Regions from separate parts of the Homo sapiens genome. Here region 1 is linked to region 2. Evidence: fine-mapped expression QTL. Tissue or cell type: whole blood. Region 2 holds a variant in brackets; the other region holds the start of a gene. All regions are shown on one strand. Distances are between the middles of the regions. Region 1 holds the start of DAP (death associated protein). Region 2 has its middle 97 kb from the start of CTD-2154B17.1.

The links. PIP is the estimated chance that this variant, and not a neighbour inherited with it, causes the effect.
Region 1: DAP starts here. The variant in region 2 is fine-mapped to the expression of DAP in whole blood (TOPMed, PIP above 0.99). The same link has a PIP of 0.9 or more in testis.

The regions. Positions count from the first base shown.
Region 1 is chr5:10,759,685-10,762,596 of GRCh38, reverse strand. It overlaps DAP (death associated protein), which reads left to right and starts at 1,363. Exons shown (of 4, transcript NM_004394.3): 1 at 1,363-1,583. The coding sequence starts at 1,529. DAP-DT (DAP divergent transcript) reads right to left here and starts at 1,561. Exons shown (of 3, transcript NR_187555.1): 1 at 1,381-1,561. RefSeq lists silencers at 828-1,297, 1,378-1,807 and an enhancer at 460-1,305.
Region 2 is chr5:10,882,660-10,885,571 of GRCh38, reverse strand. No RefSeq gene overlaps it. Among named protein-coding and RNA genes, the nearest start is that of CTD-2154B17.1, 97 kb to the right of the region's middle. The variant A/T (reference allele first, on the strand shown) is at 1,408.

The DNA of each region.
Region 1 (2,912 bases), 120 kb after region 2:
CAGTTTTGTTGTCAAAGGGAAAAGTACAGCCAAGCGAGGGGTGGTGTTTCCTTCGCTAAAGAGATTAGGCCTGTCTGAATGCGAATCCAGCAAGGCATTGCGGAAGTTAACAGCAGTTGCAAAACACTGGGGCAGGCGGGAAGAACACGATCCAAGGCACGAGAGCCAGGGGTCAGCCACGGCAACAGGAAGATGATGGTGAAAACCAAAAGTTTCTGAGAGTGGTCTCAATTTAGGAAGTTTATTTTGCCAAGGTTAAGGACGTGCATTGACACAACCTCAGGAGGTTCTGATGACATGTGCCCAGGGTGGCCAGGAAACATCTTGGTTTTATACATTTGAGGGAGACATGAGACATCAATCAATACGTAAGATGTAGGTTGGCTCTTTAGGAGGTAAAATGTGAAGTGGAGGCGTCCGGGTCATAGGTACATTTAAAGGTTTTCTGATTGGCAACTGGTTGAGAGTTATCATCTAAAGACCTGGACTCAGTAGAAGGGAATGTCCGGGTTGCATGAAGGAGTTGTGGAGACCAAGGTGTTATCATGCAGATGAAGCCGGGAATACACTGCAAATGTTTCTTATCAGAGTCCTCTATTAGTCTTAGGGTCTCCGTGCGGATGTTTGTGAGGCCATGTTTGACTTCCGCTTCCCATCAAGGCCTGAACTAGTTTTTCAAGATAACTTAGAAGGCCACAGGCGGAGGGGAGGGTCCATCCGTTGGCTGCAGGGCTTAGAATTTTATTTTTGGTTCATAACGAGGAGGGCAGGGACAGAAGCCACCGTCTCTGCTCCCCAGCGCTGGCCCTCACTCGGAAAGCAGGCTCTCCCCTCGCATCGTCTTTTAACAAATTCCTGCTCTCTCGGCCCCCGTCGCTGCCATCTGGGCTCTCCTTTCCGCGCTTCATTAGGCGCTGCCGCGGCAGGGGCTGAGGGCCTCAGGGGACGGTCGCCTCCCTGCCGGGACGCCCCGGCCCTGGCCCGCACTGTGGGGCGCAGTCACCCAGCCGTCGCCGCGTAGCCAGGAGCCCGGCTGAGCGCGTTCGCTGCAGGAGCCATCCTCAGCTGGGCCCTACTTAACTTTCCGCAACTCCAGTCCCCGCAGCCAGTCGGGGACCCCGCCTCCCTCTCCTTCCTTCTCCCTCTCACTTCTTCACCCCTTCTCTCCCCTCCCTCCTCCGCCCCCGCCCCCGCCCCCGCCCCCGCCCCCGGCCACAGCATCCGACGTGGCGCGGCCGGCTGCGCACGCACCGTATGCTTGGCTCGCGGCCCAGCAGGGCGGGCGGGCCGCGGTGACGTCAGTGCGCATGCCGTCGGTGGGCTCGGCTGCGCCACGTCGGCGCGCGGCGGCCGCGCCCCCTTAACGGCAGTGGCACTCACCCGGCTCGCGCGGCCCCGGCGCCCCACGCGCGCGCGTCGTTCTCCCGCCCGCTCGCTCCCCGGCGCTCACACCTGAGCTCACTCGCGCACGCCCGCCCGGCCCGAGAACCGCGCCGCCGCCTCGGCCCCGCGGAAGCCCCGCCGCGTCATGTCTTCGCCTCCCGAAGGGAAACTAGAGACTAAAGCTGGACACCCGCCCGCCGGTACTGACTCTTTTCCTCTCTCTCCACGCGCGGGTGCCGGGGGCGGGCTCGAACCCGGGGGCGCCGGGCGGGGGCTCCGCGGGGAGGGCCCCGGCGAGCGCTGAGACGGGTTCCGGGCCTTGATGCCCGCCCGAGGGGCGCGGGCCGCGGAGAGGTCGGGCGCCCAGGCCCGGGAGGAGCCCGCCGGAGCTTCGGCCCCGCTTGCCGGCGGCGGCGAAGCGTTTCTTCCTGAGGACCGCGGGCGGCCGCGTACCTGTGCGATTGCGCGCAGGCTCCGGTGCCTTGGGCGAACCCAGTTGCACAACTTATAACAAAGTTTTGGCGGATAATATTTACTTAGAGGATACAGATGTCTAGAAAGAAAGTAGCAGAAGCAATGAAAAGTCAGTGGTGTTAATATCATGGTGATGATTAATTAGAGGCTGCCAGCGTTTCATACCGACTCAAGAACCAAGGAGCGGAAATAATTTTTATCATTAATCACTCAATATGACTTTCACCGCCAGTTTCTTCCACATCCAGATTTTTTTTTTCCCCCAAAGTTGCTTTTTCTGATTTTGAGCAAATCCTAAACTTCTGAGCCAAGGAAGTTAAAGCCAGGAAAGAGCGGTCTTTCTTAGAACATAGGGATCTAAGCAGCCTTCATGCTTCTGCCACCTCCTCCTCTCTCTGGGCACAGTTCCTGTTTGCACTTTGGATTCTGTCCAGACGGGTCTGTTTCCGTTTCTACTCTCCTTTCCAGTGGCAGTCGGCCCATATGGAGGGACACTGGTGAGAAGATCAAAGGCCTTGGGTCTCAGAAGCCAAGTCACTTCAATGTATGGATGCGTGAGGTTCTTTTAGGTCTTAATAGCACGCCTTAGTGTCATAAACTCAGTCTTGTAGGAACAGAAGTCTTTGAGAAACATGGCTTCTTTTGGTGGCACATTTGCGCCATTTTCTTGACAATAAAGATTCCTGGCCAGGCGCGGTGGCTCATGCCTGTAACCCCAGCAGTTTGGGAGGCCAAGGAGGGTGGATCACTTGAGGTCAGGAGTTCAAGACTAGCCTGGATAACATGGTGAAACCCCATCTCTACTAAAAGTAGAAAAATTAGCTGGGCATGGTGGCGGGCGCCTGTAATCCCAGCTATTCAGGAGGCCGAGGCAGGAGAATGGCTTGAACCCGGGAGGCAGAAGTTGTAGTGAGCCAAGATTGAGCCAAAGCACTCCAGCCTTGGCGACAAAGCGAGCGAGACTCCATCTCAAAAAAAAAAAAAAAAAAAAAAAAGATTCCCATTATCCTTCTCTGCTGTCCTCCGCTATAGGGCGGGAATTCTCTGCACCAGCA
Region 2 (2,912 bases):
GGGATTACAGGCTCCCACAACCACACCCGGCTAATTTTTGTATTTTTAGTAGAGACGGGGTTTCACCACATTGGTCAGCCTGGTTTCGAACTCTTGACCTCAGTTGATCCACCTGCCTTAGCCTCCCAAGTGCTGGGATTACAGGCATGAGCCACCATGCCTGCCTCTTGACAAGATTTCAAAGTGACATTAATAAAACAAATGTAGAGACTTGACTGAGAAGTCAATCAAACGAATACAGGATGTGGGGGGCCCACAGGGAACCACAATCCATGCGAGAAGGTCTAAGGGAGCTAGTGGAATGCACTTTCCATCTTGCTGCAAGGACAGCTCATACCATCTTGGTACATGCTCACGGAAACAGTGACCAGACCCAAAGCCACGATCATCACATTGTTATGCGTTAAATCATTGTCTATTCCTGTGTGAGTTCCCCAATGGGCCTGCCTCATTTTTCTCTACTAACATCAGGAATGTAAACGGTGATTACACCTGTCACTGGCAGAACTCAGCATTCAGGAAATCTCAAGAGTTACATCTTCTAGGAAGTTTATTGAGGATCCTCAGGAAAGTGAGACTACGTGGGTTACTTTCTACTGAGGCCTGGAACTGATAGTTGGACCATTCTACTTGACAAAACCAGACGCACAAAATCCACAAACCAGAATCAACCCCACTGTGAAGACTTTCTAAATTAGCTACGGAAAGGAATGAACATGTATCGAATTAGCAGTTTATAATGGGCAATAATTTACCGAAATTACAACTAATTATGGAGCTACTTTATATTAGAAAAGCTAAGGAAGTACTTGCCTTCATGAAAGATCCACTATGTTATTATTCGTTTGGTAGATTCCATCATCCAAAAGAAAGAGGTATGTGAGGAGTGGGAGTATGTGTGCATTGGTGTGTTGAATGAATATTTGTTAGAATGCCACTGTAATACAGCTATTGATTTTTTAACTATTTATCTTTGCACTTTAAGTGGTCATTCTAGGGATTAGACTATACATCTTTATCTTTTCACAGCCTACTTCTTTTTTTTGTTAATTAAACTTTAAGTGCTGTGATACATGTGCAGAACGTGCAGATTTGTTACATAGGTATACACGTGCCATGGTGGTTTGCTGCACCCATCAACCCATCATCTACATTAGGTATTTCTCCTAATGCTATCCCTCCCCCAGCCCGCCACCCCCCGACAGGCCCCAGTGTGTGATGTTCCCCTCCCTGTGTCCATGTGTTCTCATTGTTCAACTCCCACTTATGAGTGGGAACATGTGGTGTTTGGTTTTCTGTTCCTGTGTTAGTTTGCTGAGAATGATGGTTTCCAGCTTCATCCCGTGTTAGTTTGCTGAGAATGATGGTTTCCAGCTTCATCCATGTACCTGCAAAGGACATGAACTC[A/T]TCCTTTTTTATGGCTGCATAGTATTCCATGGTGAATACGTGCCACATTTTCTTTATTCAGTCTATCATTGCTGGGCATTTGGGTTGGTTCCAAGTCTTTGCTATGGTACATAGTGCACAGCCTACTTACTTCTAAGGTACTACTTCATATAACATAATGAAACTTGCAGCCTTACTGGTCACTTGATCTGTCTTCCATCCTAGATGCTGTAGCTATCATATCTATTATAAATTCCACATGGCATGGTATAACGTTTGCTTTAAATTAGTCATGTGTATTTTTATTTGAAGATCTGTGATTTGGGACATATACATCTATGATTGTTTTAACTTCCTGATTAATTGACCCTTTGTCATTATAAAGTGTCCCTCTTTATCTCTGGTAATATTTTTTGTTGTGATGTGTATTATCTGATATTAATATATAGCTACCCCAGTATTTTTACGCTATACGCATGGTACATCTTTTAACACCTACTTACTTGCATGTCTTTCAACCTATCTATATCTGTGTATTTAAAGCACATCTTGCTTTCTTGAGTTGGGCCTTGCTTTTATATCCATCCAGACTACCTCTGCCTCTTAGAGTGTTTAGTCCATTTACACATGATGGGCTCTTACATTTACATTTGAAAGATAAAGTGGGATTCGGATCTACTATTTTACTATTTGTTTCTTGTTCATCCCATCTATTTTTGGTTTCTCTGCTCCTCCTTTTCTATTTCCATTGGGGTTAATTGAATACTTGGTAGAATTTGCTGTTTATAACTGTTATGCTGTTATTTGAGGTTAGATGACTACCTGGTTGTTCATCTCTCCCTCCCTGTCTCTGGTGTTCTGGTTCTCACCATTCTTTAGCTACTGCCATCCCTACAGGGAGATACAGAGCATCGCAGGTGGCTCCCATTTCCACATCCCTCTCCACCCGCTCGGCCCTCCTTCCTTGCACGGGCAGTTCCCTGTCGCTTAGACAAATGCGTGCACTCACCTGCTGGCAAAAGAAGGCAAAGGAGCATTTTCTAAGAAATGCAGCAGAAGTCTATGTATGACTGAGGTGGGGCCTGCTTTTTTCACTGGTTGAGTTCTTTTTTTTTTTTTTTTCCCTGAGACGGAGTTTCCCTCTTGTTGCCCAGGCTGGAGTACAGTGGCGCGATCCCGGCTCACTGCAACCTCCGCCTCCTGGGTTCAAGCGATTCTCCTACCTCAGCCTCCCGAGTAGCTGGGATTACTGGCATGCGCCACCGCACCCGGCTAATTTTCTGTATTTTTAGTAGAGACGGGGTTTCTCCATGTTGGTCAAGCTGGGGTTGAGTTCTTTTGGTGGTTATTCGAAGGAGCTACTTGAGCAGCCCAGGTGACATTAGTAATGCCCAGGGTCTCAGCTTCGAGAACTCGAAGACACTTGTTGAGAAAAATTCAGGAAGGTAAAGTGAATGCCTCGACAGCACAGCTCCCGGCCTCATGCAGCCGCCGGCAGGACGAGCACGGCCTCACAGTGAGCGACT